Regions from separate parts of the Homo sapiens genome. Here all the other regions are linked to region 2. The links come from fine-mapping of genetic effects on gene expression. A gene starts in region 2. Each other region holds a variant in brackets. All regions are shown on one strand. Distances are between the middles of the regions. Region 1 has its middle 6.7 kb from the start of MIR130AHG. Region 2 holds the start of TIMM10 (translocase of inner mitochondrial membrane 10). Region 3 overlaps UBE2L6 (ubiquitin conjugating enzyme E2 L6).

Region 1 (8,808 bases), 100 kb after region 2:
GAAGTCTCCATATTTATGGGATCCGCTAAAACTGAAAATTTTGAATCAAAGCTCTCCCCAAATATATTTGGAGAATAGAACATTGTAGTTATATTCACTAGGCTCATGACCCTAAAACCCTCTGGCTGGCTGGAAATTAGTCATGTCTAGCAGTCAATCAACGATTTTTCTAGCTAGGCCAAGGGTTCAGATTACTCCTCCTGAGAAACTTTCATTTGATCTGGGGAAATGTAAAAAGGAAAAATGAAAGGGCACAATCTCTGCTCTCAGGGAGCATCTTGGTCTGATGAGGAATTAGACACAAAATAATCATAACAGCACAGGTGGTAGGTGCAGCTAGACAGGCAACTCGGAATAAGTTTGGAAGGCCTTGAGTTCCATGCTAAGAAGTTTGGAATGTATCCTCTTGAAGAAGTTCTGACCTGGAGGAGATTAGAGCGTGTGTTGGGGGCAGTGGTATGTGAATGAACTCCAGAGGGTTCACGATCCCCTTGAGATGTATACCTGTATTAGTCCATTCTCACATTGCCATAAAGAACTACATAAGACTCGGTAATTTATGAAGAAAAGAGGTTTAATTGACTCACAGTTTTACAGGCTTAACAGGAAGCATGACTGTGAGGCCTTAGTTAATGTACAATGATGGCAGAAGTCGAAGGGGAAACAAGCTCCTTCTTCACATGGTGGCAGGAGAGAGAGAGAGCAAGGGGAGAAAGGCTACACAAGTTTAAACCATCAGATCTTGTGAGAACTCAATCACTATCACCAGAACAGCAAGGGGGAAATCCACCCCCATGATCCAATCTCCTCCCACCAGGTTCCTCCCCCAACACTGGGAATTATAATTCAACATGAGATTTCAATGGGGACAGGGAGCCAAACCATATCAATACCGTAATACAAAAAAAAAACAAAAAACATTTTTCTAGAAAGAGTCACCCATAGGTTTCATCAGCTTTTTTTTTTTAAGTGTCCGTGATCCAATAATGTTTAGGAAGCATTATCTAAATACTAGGGGCCAGGCATGGTGGCTCACACCTGTAATCCCAGCACTTTGGGAGGCTGAGGAGGGCAAATCACCTGAGGCCAGGAGTTCGAGACCAGCCTGGCCAACATGGCAAAACCCTGTCTCTACTAAAAAAATACAAAAATTAGGCCAGGTGTGGTCACTCACACCTGTAATCCCAGCACTTCGGGAGGCCGAAGAGGGCGGATCACTTGAGGTCAGGAGTTGGAGACCAGCCTGGCCAACATGGCGAAATCCCATCTCCACTAAAAATACAAAAATTAGCTGGGTGTGGTGGCAAGCGCCTATAGTCCCAGCTACTCCAGAGGCTGAGGCAGGAGAATCGCTTGAACCCGGGAGGCAGAAGTTGCGGTGAGCTGAGATTGCATCACTGCACTCCAGCCTGGGCAACAGAGTGAGACCCTGTCTCAAAAAATAAAATAAATTAAAATAAATAAATACTAGAGAGCCATCATAATTCGGGACACACGAATGATCTGAGGTTTGTGTTTTAGACTTACACGCTGATGGAATGGGACTTGAAAGGAAAGTTATTCAGAGGATGACACAAACCCTCAAGGGGCAGGGGAATGGAGAGAAAAGGAGTCATCTAAGAGGTAGAATGCACAGGATTTAGGGCAATTTGGGTGAAGGTGGCAGAGAGTAAGAGAAGTAAGGATTAGAATTATGATTGCAACCCTAAGATAAAAGATGTAAAAGAAATTTTGATTGACTTTGAAACACAAATTCTTTTAATCTGCCTGGAGATAGAAAGTTTCACAAATCAAACCCCAGGTGTCTTCTGATCCACAAGGTCATCAGGCAGTTTCTCAGAATTTCATTTTAGTACGTGGTGTATTCAGATAGGAGAGTCAGATACACTACTATCCTCTAAATCATGTGACTCCACAGCCAGAAATTCTGTAAGATTCTAATAGCCTAGAGTAACTTGTTTATCAGTATTTAAGATCATGTTTCATGGGACACTCCAATCTGCAACCCATGTTGCATGGGCTACTCCTCCTTACTGGCGCAGCCAATGAGGAAGGGTAAAGATGATCCTGTGATGGTTTTCAGCCTAAACAACTGTGGTAGGCTTTTAACTGTGAAATAGAATCTAAGAAGAAAAGCAGGTTTGTGGGGATGGGGAAGGTGAAGGTAAGACAATGAAACTGGGTTTGGGCAAACTGCATCCAAGACATCTCTGTGACATTTTATCAGTCAGGAATTTTTTTGGTTATGAGTGACAGAAGCCAACTGAGACTAACATAAGGAGAAGAGGAAATGTTGTGGTTTACATAATTAAAAACTCAAGAGGGCCAGGCACAGTGGCTCATGCCTGTAATCCCAGCACTTTGGGAGGCCGAGGGAGGCGGACCATGAGGTCAGGAGATTGAGACCATCTGGCTAACACAGTGAAACCCTGTCTCTACTAAAAATACAAAAAAATTAGCTGGGGGTGGTGGCAGGCGCCTGTAGTCCCAGCTACTCGGGAGGCTGAGGCAGGAGAACGGCATGAACCTGGGAGGCGGCGCTTGCAGTGAGCCGAGATCGCGCCACTGTACTCCAGCCTGGGCAACAAGAGCAAAACTCTGTCTCAAAAATAAAAAATAAAATAAAATAAATAAAAACTCAAGAGGTTCACCTGTAGACATGCCTCTAGCAGGTTCCCAGGCACCTGTCTCTCTCCATCTCTTGCCTCTGCTTTGCTCTGTTATGTTGGCATTTTAGGCAGATCTTCCCCCATTCGGCAGCAGTTATGGCCATCAGCAGTTTCAAGCTTTGTCTACCAGCGTAACAGGGATGGCAATACCACTTTCCCAAAGATTACAGCAAACATCTTAGGCCTAATTGTGATTGACTCTGATTGGATATCCTTGATCCAATTATTATGACTTAATTGGCTAAGTCTGGTGTGGGTGATAGCCTCTAAGACAGCCCCCAGTGATCCTACCTCCTAGTAATCATGCCTTTGTGTAATCCTCTCCTCTTGAGTAACTTACTTCTAACCAGTAGAATATGGCAATGTGGAGAGGTTGTCACTTCTGTGATTAGGTTACAAAATATTGTGACTTCATCCTGCTAGTGGACTCTCTCTCTCTTGCCGGCTTTGACAATGCAAGCTTTCATGTTGGAGAGGCCCACATTGCAAGGAACCTAGCATGGCCTCCAGCCAACAGCAAAGAACGGAGGTCCACATTCCAACAGCCCTTGAGGAACTGGATCTTCCCAAAAAACTATGAAACTGAGCTTGGAAGCAGATCTGATCCCCATTGAATCTTCAGATTAGACCCCAACCCCTGGATGATACTTTGATTGCAGCCTCATGAGAGACCATGATCAGGGGACCCAGCTAACCTCTGCCCAGATTCCTGAACCACAGAAACAGAGAAAATAAATGTGTGTTGTTTTAAGCTACTACGTTTTGGACTAATTTGTTATGCAGCAATAGACAACTAATATATCTGGATTGTGTGACTGTCCCTGAAGGGGCAGATGAGGCCAGTCTCATGTGAACCATGTGGTCTGAGGTCAGAGAATAGGTGTCTTCCCAAAGGAAAACTAAGATGTAGTTACCAGAAGGGGGATGGAATATCTGGGCAGGCAAAAGCACCAGCTGCTCACCTCACACATCTATTTGGGAATGTAAGGAGCTGGCAATACAACTAGAGATATAGATTTGGCAGTGATTCATGTATGGGTGATTGTTAAAACTGTAAGAATGGATGAAATTTCCCCCAAAGAGAGGAGAGTCAAGGACAGATCTCTCAGGAATGGCAACAATTAAGGGGCAGATGGAAAAAGAGACAAAGGTGATTAGGTGAAGGCAGAGGTGTAGGAAGACATATGTTTGATGTTGCCCAAATTCAG[C/G]TTAGTTGGCTGGTAAGACATACATCTGAGGAATTGCAACCTTCTGTTAGAAATCTGGGTCTATATGAGTGACTGTTGAAATCAGGCATGTGGATGATTTTGTTCACCGAGAGAGTATAGATGGAAAAGAAGACCAAGGACTAATCCACACAGAATCTGTATATTTAGGCAACAGGGGAGTAAAGAGGACTCACAGGAAGGGAGCTGAGAAGGAACAGTTGGAGAGGTAGGAGGGAATCCAGGAGAGGCCAGTCTGCCAGAAGTCATGGGCATTTCAAGACTGATATAGTCAGTACTGGCAAGTGCTAAAGAGAAGATGCATGTGATGAGAATTGAGAGGAGAATTGTGGATCAGTAATAAGGAAGTCATTGGCATCCTAGTAGGAAACATTTCAGTGGAAATTGGGGGGCAGAAGTCAGATTGCGCAGATTTAAGAATGAGAGAGACATGGGCTGGATGTGGTGGCTCACACCTGTAATCCCAGCACTTTGGGAGGCAGAGGTGGGAGGATCACTTTAGGTCAGGAGTTTAGAGCAGCCTGGCCAACATGGTGAAACCCCAACTCTACTAAAAATACAAAAATTAGCTGGGTATGATGGTGGGCACCTATAATCCCAGCTACTCAGGAGGCTGAGGCAGGAGAATCACTTGGATCCAGGAGGCAGAGGTTGCAGTGAGCTGAGATCACACCACTGCACTCCAGCCTGGAGTAAGACTCTATCTCAAAACAAACAAACAAACAAACAAACAAACAAAAAAAAACGAACGAGTGAGCCATGAAGGAGAGATAATATAGAAAGCTGACTAGCATTTCGAGAAGCTTCACGACAGGTTGAGGGAAGACTTGAGCATATGTATAGACTGAGATGAAAAGTCTGGGCTTCGCCCTTCCACTCCCATCTCGGAGTAATTTCAGTTGCGTTTCTTGAGTTCTATTACATCTTTCTGAGATGGCAAGGTCTAAAACTGCCCATAAATTTAGGAGTTGGCAAACTTCTATTGTGAAGAGCTGGGCAGTAAATATGCCAGGCTTTTGTTGGTCGTATGGTCTCTGTCGCAACCACTCAACTCTGCCATTGTCGTGGTTGTAGAAAGCAGCCATAGACGATGTGTAAACAAGTGAGCATGGCTGTGTTCCAATAAACTTCATTTACCAAAAAACAGGCAGAGGCAGAATTTAGCCCTGTGGGCTGTAGTTGGCTGACCCTTGCCCTAGGTTTATGGAAAGGGATTAGAGATGCAATAAATGGGGCAATTGATGGAGTAAAGGATGAGAGCTAGACCTCAAGGAAAGAGGTTTACCTCAGAAAGAAGGCACTTACGTCTACCTGGGCACCTGTGTGACTTTCTCTTTTTTTTTTTTTTTTTTTTTTTGAGAGGGAGTTTCGTTCTTGTTGCCCAGGTTGGAGAGCAATGGTGCGATCTTAACTCACCGCAACCTCCACCTCCTGGGTTCAAGCGATTCTCCAGAGTAGCTGGGATTATAGGCACGTGCCACCAGGCACAGCTAATTTTTGTATTTTTAGTAGAGATGGGGTTTCACCATGTTGGTCAGACTGGTCTTGAACTCCTAACCTCAGGTGATCCTCGGCTTCCCAAAGTGCTGGGATTACAGGCGTGAGCCACTGCAGTCGGCCGTGACTTCCTCTTTATGTGTCTGCCTTGCATTCTCCTCAACTGTGAGCACTTTCCGGGCTGGCAGTGTTTCCCAGCGATGGTTCCAGAGCCTTGCATACAGGCAGTGCTCAGACACAGCAGCATTTGAGAGAAGCAGGATGGTAAAGGTGAAGAGGCACCTTACTGTGGAAGGAGGGGAAATGAAAGAGGCTCATATGGAAAAGCCTCTATCATCATCTCAAGTGAACTAGGAGCTGTGTTAGCCAGACATGGTGGCTCACACCTATAATCCCAGCACTTTGGGAGCCTGAGGCAAGGGGATGGCTTGAGCCATCCCCTATCCCCTATAGGGATAGCCATCACCTATCCCCTATCTCAAGGGGTTTGAGACCAGCCTGGGCAACATAAGGAGACCCTGTCTCTACAAAAAATACAAAAATTAGCTAGGTGTGGTAGCATGTGCCTGTAGTCCCATCTAGTTGGCTGCAGCAGGAGTGTTGCTTGATCTCTGGAGGTCAAGGCTGCAGTGAGCCATGATGGCACCACTGCACTTCAGCCTGGGTGACAGAGCAGGACTCTGTCTCAAAAAAAAAAAAAAAAAAAAAAAAAAAAAAGCCATGTGTTATTAGCAGTTGAGTTACCTACCTCCACTGATGTTTAAGCAAGGAGGCAACTCTCTCCAGCGTTTCAGATTCAGTCCTTCCAAGAGGCAAAGGTTTAGGGCAGATGGTCTCCCTGTCTCACATTTATAGTATTCTACGTGATACTTTCTATTCTTCAAGACTCAGATGCTGCTTCCTCCAGGAAGCCTTCGTGGATTCCATTCTCCATTGGGAGCAATCCTTTTTTTCTACACGATTTACCCAAATAGGCATGGAGGGACCCATATCTGTATATGACAATGGAGGTTAGGGAGGGAGGCAAAGGAAGCACCTCCAGAATAGTCTTGGATTGCTGTGGGGGTGGTGGGAAAGGGAGGTTCCTGCAAAGCCCAGGTGCATTCTGAAACTCCCATAAGAGGAGTGAAGAATGTGGAGGTGGGGTAGGGTGGCTAGGAGCCAAGTAGCTCCTGGGTGCATTTTTTACACTCCTGTAACAGGTTGGACCACGTCTAGCTGTTCCTGGCCTCCATTTCTGACTCTCCTGAGAAGGGGTGGGGCCACGTGGGGGTTTGGAAGGTGGTGAGTGAAAAAGGAGGGTCCTTCATGCAGCTCATACCTACACACTGGGAATCCAGAGATAGGAGACTGAACTGAGAGACACCAATGAGAGTCCATTCTCTACTGAGCAATTGGAGCCCATTTTGCCCAGGGAAGGATGTTTGTGGACAACAGACGGGCCCGTAGACTAAGGCAGAAGAGGCAGAGAGCTGAGCATGGAGGCCCTGGGGCAGCTGAATGAATAGTTGCGGGGTTTGTCTTGGTGAGGAAAAGATAAAAGTATGTTCAAGGAAAATGATGTCTTTGGAGCAGAGTAGAGGCTGGAGAGATGTGTCCAAGCCCTCCATGATCTGTCCCAGCTGCCTTTTCTTCCTTTCTATTCCCCTTCAGACACCCCAGGTTCCCACTGAATCTCCAGCCAATCCCACCATTTCCCCACCTCTCAGCCTTTGTGTTGTTCTCTCTCCTTGGCATTTCCTTGTCTTCCTTTCTCCCATCTTCTTGTGTCTAAATACTTTCTATTCTTCAAGTCTCAGATGCTGCTTCCTCCAGGAAGCCTTCTTGGATTCCATTCCCCATTGGGAGCAATCCTTCTTTTCTCTGAACTCCTTATATCTCTCACCAGAGCAGTCATTTAGCAATGTCTCCTAGTAGTAAGGAAATATTCAAGATAGCAGCCATTTCCCAGGAAGCTCTGTGTTTCCCCTCATGCACATTACCCAGGCAAAGGCTCTCCAGAAGCAAGACTGGACAAACACTGTATAAGCTCAGGCCAGTGCAGCCATCTCCTTTATCAACTCCCTGCAGCAGTTGTCTCTCTGTTAGGTTAGGGCCCTATATGCACAAGTCATAGCCTGTAGCTACCAAAATCCTGGGCACCCTGCCCTCCTTATCCTCCAAAACCCCCAGCTAATTCTGTCTCTTGGTCAGTCCAAGGATAAACTCAGAGTCCTTCTTCTCCCGCCCCTCAGCTTCCTCTTCTCATGGTGGCAATGCCACAAGGGGGTCCTTCAACCATATTCAGGGAGTGGGCTCTGGGCTGTCCATCTTCTTGTAATCCTGGCATACCCAGGAGCTCTGGATTTCCACATGTCAATTGGAGGACCCATCTGGCCCTTAAATCTCGGCTCTCATTTGGCCAAGGTCAGAGAAGCACATCTCTTGAATGAAGTTAATGATGTACATGTATGTGTGTGCTCCCGCAGGAGCCCCAAAGAGATGGACTAAGTTTACAGGTGCACGTTAACTCATGAGCGAACACATCAACCTGCTGTTCTGACTGTCCTTGGGCAAGTGACAGCCCCTATCCCCACCCCGTCAACGTCTTGGTTTCTATTTTTGAAAAAACAAGGTTGGACAAACCTGCAAATTCCCTTTTAGCCACAATCTTTCATTGTGTAGTGGGGTGGGTGTATCTCAGCTCCCTTCTCAGAGAAGTGGTTGACATTCATAAGGAAAGGATTCCTGACAAAGGTGACAGGAATTTGAACCTCATTTCCGGGGAATTGATGCCCTTTATGATTTGTGATTTGAACCTGTAGGAATTCATGCCTGAGGATGAAAAGAAAGGGTTTTTTTTTTCCCCCAGCAAGAATCATAGAATGAACTGGGCGCGGTGTCTCATGGCCGGGCGTGGTGGCTCACACCTGTAATCCCAGCATTTTGGGAGGCCAAGGTGGTCAGATCACGAGGTCAGTAGTTTGAGACCAGCCTGACCAACATGGTGAAACCCCATCTCTACTAAAAATACAAAATTAGCCAGGCCTGGTGGTGCACACCTGTAATCCCAGCTACTTAGGAGGCTGAGGCAGGAGAATCACTTGAACCCAGGAGGCAGAGGTTGCAGATCGCGCCACTGCACTCCAGCCTGGGCAACAAAACCAGACTCTGTCTCAAAAAAAGAAAAGGATCATAAAATGGGCCAGTAGGTGGGGTGGCTCATGCCTGTAATCCCAGCACTTTGGGAGGCCAAGGTGGGAGGATTGCTTGAGCCCAGGAGTTCAACACCAGCCTGGGCAACATAGCAAGTCTTTCTTAAAAAAAAAAAAAAAAAAAATTAGTTGGATGTGATGGCACGTACCTGAAGTCTCAGCTACTTGGGAGACTGAGGCAGGAAAATCACTTGAGCCCAAGAGGTCTAGACTGCAGTGAGC
Region 2 (6,675 bases):
ACAGTCACATTCCAGTGTGACAAATACTCCTTCACCAGGAGACAGCGCTACCACTCCGGGATCTTGAAGACTCTCTACAGAGAGCCTAGGCCTGGCAGTCTTCACAGATGACACCCAACAGGGAGCACGTTTATTAAAGTGGGAAGGGGTGGGGTACACCCCAGGGTGTATACTGACAGGGACCTCATGCAGGCCCAGAGCTCTGCTGCACCCTCTTCATCAGCTCTTCATCCTGCATAGACAACTCTGTCAACTTTTTGCCCATCCGCTCATGGATGTCCAGGTACTTAGAGACACATCGGTCCAGGCACACAGACTCGCCCTTGGAGAGCTCTGCTTCCTTGTAGTGAGGAGGCACACACTTCCGGTGGCAGGCACTGGTCATTCTGGAGGGAGGGAGGGGCAAGGTCATGTCAGCAGCATCCTGTGACATCCCAGGAACCTTGACCATTCCAGCCCTGCTATATTGATTTCACCTCCCCCAAGAAAGCAGTGTAAATCCTCAGTTTACACCTCAACCACTGGAAGGTCCTTGCAAGTAGGAAACTTGTCTAAGTCCATGTATATGACTAACTAAGTAGAAACCATTTGTTGAGGACTGGCTACATGCCAGGCATCCTGCTAAGTGCTTTACCTGCATTCTGTTATGCAATGCTTACAATAACCCTAAGAGACATGTATCCCCATTTTACAGATGAGGAAATTAAGGCAAACAGAGGCTCAGTAATTTTCTAAGGATCACACAGAGCTGGGTTATGAAGCCAGGTCATCTGACCTCACAGTCTACACTTAAAAATCCTTCTAATTTATAGCCTTCAGGATAAACCAACCAATCAAGAGAGCTTAAGCCAATAAAAATAGCAGACATTTCACTAAGTGTTGGGCTTGAGGCTAAGGGCTTTCATATATTTTTAGATTTAATATTTATGATGTCCTATGAGGTAGGTATCATTATGTCTTCTTCATAATGAGGAAACCAATTGTCAAACAGTGCAAGTAACATGTCCAATTATACTGCTGGTGATTGGTGGAGCCAGGATTTGTTCCCAAATTTGCCAAATGGTTATGAGCACTAGTTGCAGAATCAGACTGAGGTGCTAGTTCTGGCATTGTTACTGACCAGCTGCCGACCCTAAGGAAGTTACTTAACCTCTAGAATCATCAATTTCCTCATTTTAAGACGGGACTAATAAAATTAACCCACTGGATTATTTTGAAGATTAACAAGTGCCTGACACAGAATAAAGGGTTTTAAAATGTTAACTACTAAATGGGCTGGCTATGTGCTATTTGTCAAGAGGCAAATACTCAGCTTTTCTTGGAACCTAACCAGAGCCTGGATTGGAGTTTCTCTTCCTGCTTGGCTCCTGCATTGCCAGTTCCATCCCCATCTAAATGCCCAACTCATTCTAGTGACCCTTTACTGCATCTACATTAGGATCAACCTTGAAGGTGGGTGTGGGGAGGGTAAGCATGGGCCTCAGGCTCCCCTACATTCAGGAAGGAATTTGTCATAAGTCATTCACCTTCGATAAGGGTGACCAAGACTTATTTTCCAAGACAGGGTAGCACATAGTTCTCTTTACCTGTTGTACATATCGGCCATCATCTCCACCTCCAGCTCCGCAGCCAGCTGTTGGGCCCTGAGAGGATCCATCTCAGCCTAGCACCGTGGAAGGGATCTCCTTCTGGCCTCCTAATCCTGGGAGCAGACATCACCATCAGCACCCACCGCCGCCGTTCACTCTCCTACCCCTGGGGCTAGAGGATACAGAGGACTCACAGGGCGCCAGACCACCACGGGCCACTAACCTCAGTGAGCTTAACCACCCCATTTCACGGATGTGGAAACTGAGGCCTAGCCCAAGGTCGCACAGGACGTCTATGGCGAGCCTGGAAATCGAGCCCCGGATCTCTGATGCCCCAGTTCCTGGAGGTCACCTCTATTCAGGAGATCGAGGACCGGAGGAGAACTCTCTAACCCACGAACCTGAACCTCCAGGGCCCTGGGAATGGGATCATACGCTGAACAGAGGCGACCGGGACCCAGCCCAAAGGCTACACCTCTGAAATGGCGACGCCATCATCAGGGCCACATTGAATTCAGAGGTCATGTGTCACTTACCACTGCCTGGGACGGATCACAATGCCCACGGAGACCCCAACTTCTGACAAATACTATAACGTTACCCGCCTCCCGAGAGGCTCCAGCGGAAGCACGTGGGTTACTTCCGGGAGGAAAGTCCCGCCTCTTCTTTGATTCAAACTCGCTTCCGGAATTAAATACCAACGAGACGGCGCCGGGAACTCGGCGATCATAGAGAGGGAGCGGCTGGCGCCGGGCGAAGAGGAAGGCGACTTGCCAGTGCTAGAGAGGACACCAAAGTACCATAGAAGCTTGGGCGGGGTGCAGAGCGTCTGCAGCCCGATCAGAATTCAAGTCCTTTGGGATGTCACCGAGCGGCTTCAGTTTATTGGTTCTGTAGGAAGAGGCGTGGCGACAGACACCTGTGAACCTCACCCCCGTTCCAGACAGCCGACTCCTGTGCGCAAATCAGGCGTGGAGAAGGAAGAACGCCCCCAAACAGCGGTTCTGTTTTTGTTTCGCGTTAAAATCACCTGGAACGTTTTTAAACATCCCAGTGCCCAGGACTCACCTCATTTCAATTAAATCAGAATCTCTGGGAGTACAGTTTAAAATTCCTCAGGCAGCAATACAATTTAAAATTCCCCAGGTGATTCGTATGTACAGCCAAATTTGAGAAGCAGTGCTCCACGGGACGTTGTGCGATTACTGCTGTGTGTAGGTCACACTAAGCCCCGTCTGGGGTTGCAAAGATAAGCGAGATAGGCTTCCTGTTCGCAGAAAGACAAGACGTGTAAAATATGTTTTCTTCAACAGTTAGAGGTCCTCAGCCACAAAGAGATAATAAAAGCAATTTCGGCTGCCACCAGGGCTAATCTTGGGTGAGGGAAAGAAGGGTACTGGTGAACTTTCCAACTTTCAAGACTTAATGTGTTCTTCAAACTGCACCATTCACTCATTCCCCACTAAAAAGAAGGAAACAAGGAAACAATACTCAGTCCCTTGATTTGTCACACAATTTCCTGGTAAAATAAATTTACAAGATGTAAATTAATGACGCAAGGGCACATTGCCCATTGGAAAAGGTGGGCTAGACATTTTCTGTGTGGTCATCATAAGCTTCCCTAATTGTCCAAGACCATCCTAATTTTAAACAATTGACCTTTCTACTGCTTTGAAGACTCATCTTTGCCAAACTTGTGCCCTGATTTTTAAAGATTGGGGTATAACATTCATAAAGTGCATAAAATACACGAATGTTAAGCTTAATTAAATATATATGTATCTATATATGTACATTTGTATAACCGCCATCCAGATCAAGATATAAAATACTTCCTGCACCCCAAAAAGTTATCTTGTGTTCCTTCCCCATCAATACCCCCTCTCGAAGTTAACCACTATTCTGACCTCTATCACCATCAATTAGTTTTCCTTGTTCTTGAACTTCGTGTAAATGGAATTATACATTATTTTCTATTTTGTGCCTGACTTCTTTAGCTCAATGTACCTGTAAGATTTCCTCCATATTGTTGTGTGCATCTGTTATTCCTTCTGTTTTATTGCTGTCTAGTGTTTGATTGTATGAGTATGCCACAATTCATCTATCCATTCTCCCGTTGGTGGATGTTTGGATTGTTTCCAGTTTTTGCCTATTATGCAATAATGCTGCTATGATACTCTTGTACAGATGGACATATCTTGCCTTGGTTTTTGCCTTTGAAAATATAGTCAACATTGGCCGGGTGCAGTGGCTCACGCCTGTAATCCCAGCACTTTGGGAGGCTGAGGTGGGTGGATCACCTGAGGTCAGGAGTTCGAGACCAGCCTGGCCAACTTGGTGAAACCCCATCTCTACTAAAAATACAAAAAAGTAGCCCGGTGTGGTGACGGGTGCTTGTAATCCCAGCTACTCAAGAGGCTAAGCAGGAGGCTAAGGCAGGAGAAACACTTGAACCCGGGAGGCAGAGGTTGCAGTGAGCCAAGATCGCACCATTGCACTCCAGCCTGGGCAACAAGAGTGAAACTCCGACCCCCCACTCCCCGCAAAAAAGAAACATTATGGAAAGTTAAGAAACTGCGTGGGAAAAGGAGATGGTTTCTTACAAGAGGAATCTTGCAATATCTACTGGGCCTTATGAAAGGTTGCATACTGTATGATTTCATTTAAGTAACATTCTCAAAATCACAAAATTATAGAGATGGAGAAGAGATTTCTGATTGTCTAGTGTTAGGGTTGATGGGGAGATAGAAGTGTACCTGTAAAGGGTAGCACAAGAGAGATCTTTGTGTTGATGGATAATTCTGTATCCTGATTGTGGTGGTGGTTACAAGAATCTACACAGGTGATAAGATGTCATAGAACTGGCAGGGTGCGGTGGCTCACGCCTGTAATCCCAGCACTGTGGGAGGCCCAGGCGAGCGAATCACAAGGTAGGAGTTCGAGACCAGCCTTGTTGGTGAAACTCCGTCTCTACTAAAAATACAAAAAATTAGCTGGGGGTAGTGGCGGGCACCTGTAACCCCAGCTACTCAGGAGCCTGAGGCAGGAGAATCGTTTGAACCCGGGAGGTGGAGGTTGCAGTGAGCCGAGATCGTGCCACTGCACTCCAGCCCAGGCGACAGAGTGAGACTCCGTCTCAAAAAAAAAAAAAAAGCCAGGCGCGGTGGCTCACACCTGTAATCCCAACACTTTGGGAGGCCGAGGCGGGTGGATCACGAGGTCAGGAGATCGAGACCATCCTGGTTAACATGGTGAAACCCCGTCTCTACTAAAATAAAAAAAATCAGCCGGGTGTGGTGGCATGCGCCTATAGTCCCAGCTACTCAGGAGGGCGAGACAGGAGAATCGCTTGAACCCGGGAGGCGGGAGGCAGAAGTTGCAGTGAGCCGAGATTGTGCCACTGCACTCCAGCTTGGGCGACAGAGCAAGACTCGGTCTAAAAAAAAAAAAGAAAGAAAAAAAAAGTCATAGAACTACTACACACACACATTGTACCAATATAAATTATCTGGCTTTGATATTGAATATAGTTATGTTAGATTTAACCTTTAGTGGAAGTTGGTAAAGGGCGTACAGGACCTCTCTGTACTATTAATGCAACTTCCTGTGAAACTATAATTATTTCTAAATAAAAAGTTTTAAAAATCTCTACAAAAAAGAAAACAAATAAGATTATACAAGTATGAGTAAGAGCTGGCCATAAAGAAAGAAAGAAAAATATTTATATAAAAGATTGTGTAAGTAAAGTACCTAGTCCATGGTAGATGCTCAATAAAAATAAATCATTGTTTTCATTCTTTTTCATTTTTAAACTTTCACTGGGGCAAATTTATTTTTATTTTTACTTAGGATTTTTGAGGCAGGATCTTGCCTTGTCACCCAGGCTTGAGTGCAATGGTATGATCAGTGCTCACTGCAATCGTGAACTCCTTGGCTTAAGCAATCCTCTTACCTCAGCCTCCTAAGTAGCTGGAACTAGAGGCATGAGCCACCATGCCTGGCTAATTTTTTTTTTTAAGAGATAGGGTCTCATCATGTTTCCCAGGCTGGTTTCAAACTCCTGGGCTCAAACAATCCTCCTGTCTTGGCCTCTCAAAGTGCTGGGATTACAGGCATGAGCCACCCCATGCCCAGATGGAATATTTAAAACATACAGAAAAGCAGAGAGAACAGGACATTGAGCTTCCATATATTCATCACCAGGACTTAGGAATTGTTAACATTTGTCCATATTTTCTTCATCTATTTTTATCTCTAACAGATAAAGCCCTTTTATTTATTTATTTTTTCCTTGAGACAGGGTCTCTGTCGCTCAGCCTGGAGTGCAGAGACCCAATCATAGCTCACTGTTAGCTTAAACTCCTGGGCTCAAGCAATCCTCCCATCTCAGCCTCCTGAATAGCTAGGACTACAGGCGCAAGCCACCATGCCTGAGTGGTTTTTAAAATTTTTTGTAGAGATAGGGTCTTGCTATGTTGTCCAGGCTGGTTTCAAACTCCTGGCCTCAAGCGATCCTCCTGCCTCAGCCTCCCAAAGCACTGGCATTACAGGCATGAGTCACTGCACTGGGCCCTGCTTAACAAAAAAAATTTTTTTAAACGGAGTCTCGCTCTGTCACCAGACTGGAGGATAGTGGCACGATCTCCGCTCACTACAGCCTCTGCCTCCCAGGTTCAAGGGATTCTCCTGACTCAGCCTCCCAAGTAGCTGGGACTACAGGCGCATGCCACCACACCCAGCTAATTTTTGTGTTTTTAGTAGAGATGGGGTTTCACCATGTTGGCCAGGATGGTCTCAGTCTCCTGACCTCATGATCCACCTGCCTTGGCCTCCCAAAGTGCTTTATACACCGCGCCCGGCCAACAAATTTTTAAGTGCACAAAATAGTATTGTTAACTATATGTACCATATTGTACACAGATTTCTAGAACTTATTCATCTTGCATAACTGAAATTGTATACCCATTGAACAGCAACTCTCCATCTCCCCAGCTGCTCAGCCTCTGGAAAACCATTGCTCTTATTGATGATGATGCTATTGTTATTATGATTATTTACTATGAGACTGTGTCTTTCCTCTATGTGG
Region 3 (8,079 bases), 27 kb after region 2:
TAAGCTGTGAACCCCCTCTCCAGTAATCTCTACCCAGTATCAGTCCCTCCTCCAAGCAAAGCCCAACCCCACCTTGGCAAGTCTTGGTGCAAGGCTTCCAGTTCTCACTGCTGATGATGGGCAGGCAAATCTGTCCGTTCTCGTCCACGTTGGGGTGGTAGATCTTGGTTGTGAATTTGATCATGGGAGGCTTGAACGGATACTCCGGCGGGAAGCTGATGCGCAGGTTGAAGGCTTTCAGGTGGTAGGGAGGTTGGTCCTGTGCAGAGAGAAAAGGGGTCAAGCTCCAGTCTGGTTTTCCTCCCTTCCTGCCCCAATCCGAGGGTCCTAGGCATCCTCTGCTTCACTCCCAGGAGGAATCATGAGCCAGGACACACACAGCACCTGCATTCATTTGACAATTGAGTCATGGATTAGTGAAAATGTGAAATCACCAAAGGGCACTGGCCTGGGAGGCAGAGAAGTCTGATCCTGGCTTTTGCTGTGTGACCACGGGTGAGCCACTTCCCACCTCTAGGCCTCAGTTTCCTCATTTGAAAAGTGGATAAAGATGGACTAGATGAGCTCTAAGGACCATCTCAGCTTTCAAGACTTTCTGAGATTATGGAAGAAAAGGATGGAACATCCTTTCTTAAAACATTAGAATGGGGGTGAGGAAATGGAGAAAATGAGGAAATCCTAAGAACTCAGGAGCTTAGGAAAATAAAATGGTGCAGCTGTGATGGAAAACAGTATGGCCATTTCTCAAAAGATTAGACACAGAATTACCATATGATCCAGCAGTTCTACTTCTGGGTAGACACCCAAAGAACTGAAAGCAAACAGGTATTTGTATACCAATGTTTCTAGCAGCCAAAAGGTGAAAGCAAACCAAGTGTCTATCAATGGATCAATCAACAAAACGTGGCATATACACACAATGGAGTATTATTTAGCCTTAAAAGGAATGAAATTCTGATATATGCTACAACACGGATGAACCTTGAAGACACTATGCTACAGGAAATAAGCTAGACAAAAAAAGGACAGATTTGCAAGATACCACTTATGTGCAGTACCCAGAATAGTCAAATTCATAGAAACAAAATACAAAAGTGGTCACCAGGTGCTGGGGAAAGAAAGGAATGGGGAGTTACTGAAGGGGTACAGAGTTTCAGTACAGGTAGACAAAAAGTTCTAGAGATGAACGGTGGTGATGGTTGTGCAACAATGTGTGTTTGTTTGTTTACTGAAGCAGGGTCTCGCTCTGTCACCCAGGCTGGAGTGCACTGGCATTATCATTGCTCACTGTAATCTCAAACTTCTGGGCTCAAGTGATCCTCCCACCTCAGCCTCCTGAGTAGCTGGTACTACAGGGGCCCACCACCATATCTGGCTAATTAAAAAAATTTTTTTGATAGGGTCTCACTGTGCCAGGGCTGGTCTTGAACTCCTGGACTTGAGCAATCCTTTTGCTCTGGCCTCCAGATTACTGGGATTACGAGCGTGAGCCACCATGCCCAGCTGTAATCCTATTTAATCCTATTTAATGACACTGAACTATATACTTAAAAATGGTTAAGATAGTAAATTTTGTTATGTGTATTTTACTATGATTAAAAACAAACAAACTCAGGGGCTGGAGTGACCTAGGGGTTGGGAGCTGCAAGGAGCCAGCAGAAGACCCTCTAGACTTTGAGCCACCTGAACACTTTTCTGAGCACCTGTCTGTGCTGTCCTGTGCTAAGGGTTTGACATGCATTAGCCTGTGCAACAGAGTATGGGGGTCACACAGACTCCGGAGCCACCCTGCCTGGGTGTGATTCAACTCTGACACTCACTAGCCATGTGATCTAACTAGGTCAGGTGCGGTGCCTCACGTTTGTAATCCCAGCACTTGGAGCCACCCTGCCTGGGTGTGATTCGGCTCTGACACTCACTAGCCATGTGATCTAACTAGGCCGGGCACGATGGCTCACGTTTGTAATCCCAGCACTTTGGGAGTCCAAAGTGGGCAGATCCCCTGAGGTCGGGAGTTCAAGACAAACCTGACCAACATGGAGAAACCCTGTCTCTGTTAAAAATGCAAAATTAGCCGGGTGTGGTGGTGCATGCCTGTAATATCCGCTACACGGGAGGCTGAGGCAAGAACCGAGAGGCAGAAGTTGAACCTGGGAGGCTGACGTTGTGGTGAGCAGAGATCACACCCTTGCACTCCAGCCTGGGCAACAAGAGCAAAACTCCGTCTCAAAAAAAAAAAAAAAAAAAAAAAGAGAGATGGAGTAAAAAAAAGTAGGAAGATAAAGAAAATATCTCATTTTTTATGGTCTCAGTAAGGAGAAAAGGCTGTGCCTATCAGTCAGAGAAGGCCAACAGCTGAGGCCTCAGAGCAGGATGGGAGGGTGCTGTGGTTGGATGTTTTGTCTCCTCAAATCTCAGGTTGAAATTTGATCCCCAAGACCTACGTGGCGGTGGCTCGCGCCTGTAATCCTAGCACTTTGGGAGGCTGAGGCAGATGGATTGCCTGGGCTCAGGAGTTTGAGATCAGCCTGGGCAACATGATAAAACCCCGCCTCCACTAAAATACAAAAAGGTAGCTGGGCGTGGTAGCATGTGCCTGTAGTCCCAGCTACTCAGGAGGCTGAGGCATGAGAATTGCTTGAATCCAGGAGGCAGAGGTTGCAGTGAGTCTTGCTCTGCACTCCAGAGTGAGACTCTGTCACCAAAAAAAAAAAAAAGGAAAGAAAAGAAAAGAATTTGATCCCCAATGTTGGAGGTGGGGCCTACCAGGAGGCGTATGGGTCCTGGGGGCAGACCTCCCACGAATGGCTCCGTGGAATGGCTCCGTGCCAACCTCACAGTCATAAGAGAGTTCTTACTCTATTACTTACTGAAAAAGCTGGTTGTTTAGAAGATCCTGGCACCTGCTCGCTCTCTCTCTCTTTCACTTCTTCTCTTGCATGTGATCTGTACACGTGGCTCCCCTTTGCCTTCCACCATGAGTGGAAGCTTCCTGAGGCCTCATCAGAAGGAGATGCTGGTGCCATGCTTCTTTTTTTTTTTTTTTTTGAGATGGAGTTTCACTTTGCTGCCCAGGCTGGAGTGCAATGGCGTGATCTCGGCTCACCGCAACCTCTGCCTCCTAGGTTCAAGCGATTCTCCTGCCTCAGCCTCCCAACTAGTTGGGATTATAGGCATGCACCACCACACCCAGCTAATTTTGTATTTTTGGTAGAGACAGGGTTTCTCCATGTTGGTCAGGCTGGTCTTGAACTTCTGACCTCAGGTGATCCGCCCTCCTCGGCCTCCCAAAGACATGGGATTATAGACGTGAGCCACCATGCCCAGCGCCATGCTTCTTGTACAGCCTGCAGAAGCTTGAGCCAAATTAACCTCTTTTCTTTATATATTACTCAGCCTCGGGTATTCCTTTACAGCAACACTAATGGACTAAGACAGGGGTATCAGTGTGTCCTGCCTGAAGGGGCTTCTTTCTGGGCTTCGTAGGACTTAACAGAGGAAGGAGGTAGCAGAGTCATGGAGCTGAGAGCTCCGGGGACCTGTCCCAGCTCTGCCT[C/T]GGGCTTGCTGTATGACTGAGCTTTCTCTGAGGATCAGTTTCCTCGTCTGTAAAATGGAGAAGCTGGACCAGAGGATTCCATGCTGTATCTTACAGTCAGTTGAGAAAGTCCCACTACCTTCTAAGTTCTAGGTTAAATAAAGGATTTTGCTACTTTATTTTGTTTTGTTTTTTTGAGACAGAGTTTTGCTCTTGTCATCCAGGCTGGAGTGCGATGGCCCAATCTCAGCTCACTACAACCTCCAACTCCCGGGTTCAAGTGATTCTCGTGCCTCAGCCTCCTGAGTAGCTGGGATTATAGGTGCCCACAACCATGCCCAGCTAATTTTTGTATTTTTACTAGAGACAGGGTTTCACCATGTTGGCCAGGCTGGTCTCAAACTTCTGACCTCCAGTGATCCACCCACCTCAGCCTCTCAAAGTGCTGGGATTACAGGTGTAAGCCACCGTGCCCGGCCTGCTACTTTTTAAAAAATTTTGAAAACTATTCATTTTTCATGGAGTGGTTAAAAGAGAAGACCCTGGAGTCCGCTGAATTCCACTCCTGCCACCTTATTCTGAGTGACCCCAGACCAGTTACTTAACCTCCTTGGTTTCCATCTCTGCAATTTTAAGAGGAAGACAACCTTCCTCACTGGATGGTTGAGAGGATTCAATATGACCTCATATGTCGTGTGCTTAAAACAGCACTTGGTCCACAGGAAACTCTCAAGGAATGAGAATTTTACTATTAGCTTCGAAAGACTCATCGAGCTGAATCCTTCCATGACCAAGATGTGACAAGTGGGGCCACTTTGGTGAACACATAAACTGAGACTGAGCCTTTGAGGAGGAATTTGTGTGCTATTCCAAAAGACCTTTCCTGGTTCTCCTTCCTCTGCCAGTCAACCATCCCCTCCTTTATGGCCTCACCAGGCACCTTCAGGCCCCCTTAGCTGATGACTTACATCAAGCTTTGGTCCTCCAGCTCTGGGATTCCTCCCAAGTATCATGTTTCTTCAGGACTCCTATATGGCTGGAAGGTCTGTGGCCAGTTCCTGGGGCGCACTTAACCACCTTGGTCTTGCCAACTATTGAGGTCCTCTGATTTCATAGTACTCTGCCAAACGAGACCTTTCCTAGGTTTTCCTATCACCCCTGCTTTCATCATCTCAAAGTTGGTCTCCTTGGAGATATAATCAGTCCCTGGAGCTCCTTTGAGCATCTTCTCCCGGCACCTGAGGCCTAGAACAGGTGTCCTCACTCTAAGCCAGGTAAGTGGATCGTTTCAACACAGTAACCCAAGGGACTTGACAGAGGTTCCCATGTTGACCTGACTCAGGCCTTTCTCTACTTTTCTGGACTATAGGTCAGTTTAAAGAGAAGACGACACAACCTAGGCCACTGCATTGTCAATAAAAAGTAAATCCTGCCGGGTGTGGTGGCTCCACCTGTAATCCCAGCACTTTAGGAGGCCGAGGTGGGCAGATCACTTGAGGCCAGGAGTTTGAGACCAGCCTGGCCAACATAGCAAAATCCTGTCTCCACTAAAAACACAAAAATTAGCCAGGCATAGTGGCACGTGCCTGTAGTCACAGCTACTCAGGAGGCTGAGGCAGGAGAATCGCTTGAACCCCAGAGTGGAGGTTGCAGGAAACGAACATCGCATCACTGCACTCCAGCCTGGGTGACACAGTAAGACTCTGTCTCAAAAAAAAAAACAAGTCCAAATCCTAAATGATAAGATGAATTGTTCCTTTGATATTCCAAAGAGCTTTGACTAACAAAAAGTTCAATGTCTTAAATTTTATTTCCAAGTAATGAAAAGTGTAGATTAATTTCTCAAAGTATCTTTAGTCACTAATAATCGGATGAAAAAAAGAGAGATCTTGCACTCTGAAAACTATTTTGGAATACTGCTTTCAGAGAGACTTTATCAAGAAAATACCAAATAATAAACAGAGAAAAATAAGAACAGTAGAAATGAGCTATTTGTGTTTTCATATGTAACAATTTTCTGAAATAAGACTACAGAAAAACAAAATACAATTTAGGTTTGCGGGAGCAAATTCTCCCAACTGTGAGAGCCTGGAAGTTTATCCCTACCCCTTGACAAAGGTCCAAGAAATCTTTATTTCTTCTTCTTTTTGATGCTGTTTGTCTCCTGAAGTTCTGTGGTGGGCTTGGTGGCTACCGGTTTAAGGAAGGGGTCTCCTACTAAGTCAAAAGTCCTTTGGCATCTTTATCAGAAGGTGAACCTCAGAAGTATCTGGATCTCAGAAGCAATCAATTCAGAGAGAAGCCCCCTCCAGCAATGATAACCTCCAGTAAAAGGATCTCAAGCAGGGAAAATTCTTGCCTAGTCCTAACCCTCCCTGCCCATGTCCCTGGCCTAATTTGGCCCCAATCCAAAGCCATGGTCCCCATGGATACTCACGGGTAGGAGGAGAGCGTGCCACACCAGGACATTGGCATCATCGCTGGACAGGTTCCGCAGGTATGGGGGAGGCTTCTTCTGAAGATCCTCCAGCTCCTGCAGGGGACACAAGTGAGTGGGCAGTTGGCCTAGTCCTCCTTATTTCAGCCCCCTCCCCCTGCCCCAGCAGCAAGCTGCCCCAAGTTCAAAACTGGCCATCTTAGGGGCAGAAGCCGGTAAAGTCAGAGCCTACATTTACTGAGCACTTAGTATGTATCAGGCATGGTGCTGGTGCTTTTTCTTTTTTCTTTTTTTTTTTTTTTGAGACAGAGTCTCGCTCTGTTGCCCAGGCTGGAATGCAGTGGCGCAATCTCGGCTCCCTGCAAGCTCCGCCTCCTGGGTTCACGCCATTCTCCTGCCTCAGCCTCCCGAGTAGCTGGGACTACAGACGCCCGCCACCACGCCCCGCTAATTTTTTGTATTTTTAGTAGAGACGGGGTTTCACCGTGTTATCCAGGATGGTCTTGATCTCCTGACCTCGTGATCCGCCCGCCTCAGCCTCCCAAAGTGCTGGGATTACAGACGTGAGCTACCGCGCCCAGCCGGTGCTGGTGCTTTAAGTGAATTTTCTGACTGTGGCCTCACCACAACTCTGGTACACCTAGGTACTAGGTGCAGGGAAAAATAGATCACTTCTCCCAGATATTAAAACTTGGGAGTAAGTGCTCTTAGGAGGCTTTTCTCCTGAAAGCAGGGTACTTAACCTCTGCTCTCTAGCCTTCTTCCTAGAAAGTCACTAGGTTCTAATTCCCTTCCTCTCTTCCTTTCTTCCTTCCGTAAGCATCGACTGAGCATCTGCAGCAAAGACATGACCCCACCGCTTCAAACTCTGCCAGATCAGGGCTGGAGAAGGGAAATGACTCCGGAAGACCATAGCAGAGAAGAACTCTACACACCAAGTGGGGAAACAAGGGGGCAAGGAGTGACTCATCTTCCCAAAACTGTGGCCCAAACACCTGAATATCCCTTCTGAATTCTCCCAACAGCCATTACTGAGCATCTTCTACTGACATTTAACTGAGACAGGACCCAGTCCTCAAGAATTTCAATAGAGTAATGGACGAAACATGGATGTGATTATGTGAATGTGTATGGATATACGGTAAGGAAGGAGATGAGAGGGGAGAAGGAAGGTTTCACAGAGGGTGCACTCTGTGAGCTGGGCCATGCAGAATGAACAGGAATCCATAAAGCAGAGAAGGGGAGAAGCACCAGGGCAGAGGGCCCAGATGGGAAACATAAGTACAGTATGTCCTGCAGAAGGTTAATAGGTAGTACAGGAAAAGGGTTCCAAGGTCAAGTACATTTGGTAAATCTCGGCTAAAGAGGTTTCTTCACTGGAGAACTTCCCACAGCCTTTAATATGCTATTGTGTATGGTGATTGACCAAGCTGTGGGCCCACAGCATGCAGTACTTCTCAAATGTATTTGACAAAGGAATGCTGCCCCTCTTTTAGAGTCCATCTTGTGGGACTACAGGCCTTTTCTTGTTGGGGAAGATAAAGACACTCAAGGGCAGGTCACATTTCTCTGGAACAATGAATTGGTACAAACCAGTGGTTCTCAACCAGGGGCGATTTTACCCAGCCAGGGACATTCGGTAATATCTGGGAACATTGTTCCGTTGTCATAAATCGGGAGAGTGGATAGAGGCCAGAGATGCTGATAAACATCCTAACAAAGAATTATCTGGCCGAACAAGAGGGGAGACCGCTGCCCTGCAGGGTGAGTCTCAGGCCTGGTCACATTCACCACAAGCTGACTGAAGGGCCTTTGGGCCTTAGGCGAACATCAGCAGTAGTACCCTGGCAGTACTCCTCATAGACCCGTGGTGGTGGTGGACAAGGGGAGAGACTCCTATATCTGGGGAAAAGGGAGGGAAGAGTGGGAAGGACTGTGTCCTGTGGTTTCAGTGCCAGCTTAGCTGCAGTAGCACAGAGCACTAGAGAGATTTCTAAGGTTTCCGACTCCAGGCCCTGGCCCATGGACAGCAACTGTGGACCTCTCTGGGGCCCAGCAGTGAACTAACCACCCTAAGGGGAAGAACACAAGCCTGGCTGGCTTCACC

The links. PIP is the estimated chance that this variant, and not a neighbour inherited with it, causes the effect. A credible set is the group of variants that fine-mapping cannot tell apart.
Region 1: its variant is the best candidate, but not a certain one, in a credible set for the expression of TIMM10 in whole blood (TOPMed, PIP 0.61).
Region 3: its variant is the best candidate, but not a certain one, in a credible set for the expression of TIMM10 in whole blood (TOPMed, PIP 0.60).

Annotation. Positions count from the first base shown.
Region 1 is chr11:57,627,298-57,636,105 of GRCh38, forward strand. No RefSeq gene overlaps it. Among named protein-coding and RNA genes, the nearest start is that of MIR130AHG, 6.7 kb to the right of the region's middle. The variant C/G (reference allele first, on the strand shown) is at 3,878.
Region 2 is chr11:57,528,533-57,535,207 of GRCh38, forward strand. TIMM10 (translocase of inner mitochondrial membrane 10) reads right to left here and starts at 2,222. Exons shown (of 3, transcript NM_012456.3): 1 at 2,126-2,222; 2 at 1,587-1,702; 3 at 1-386. The coding sequence starts at 1,657. The coding sequence ends at 185. RefSeq lists an enhancer at 2,222-2,401.
Region 3 is chr11:57,554,365-57,562,443 of GRCh38, forward strand. It overlaps UBE2L6 (ubiquitin conjugating enzyme E2 L6), which reads right to left. Exons shown (of 4, transcript NM_004223.5): 2 at 5,973-6,068; 3 at 73-259. Among named protein-coding and RNA genes, the nearest start is that of UBE2L6, 9.3 kb to the right of the region's middle. The variant C/T (reference allele first, on the strand shown) is at 3,557.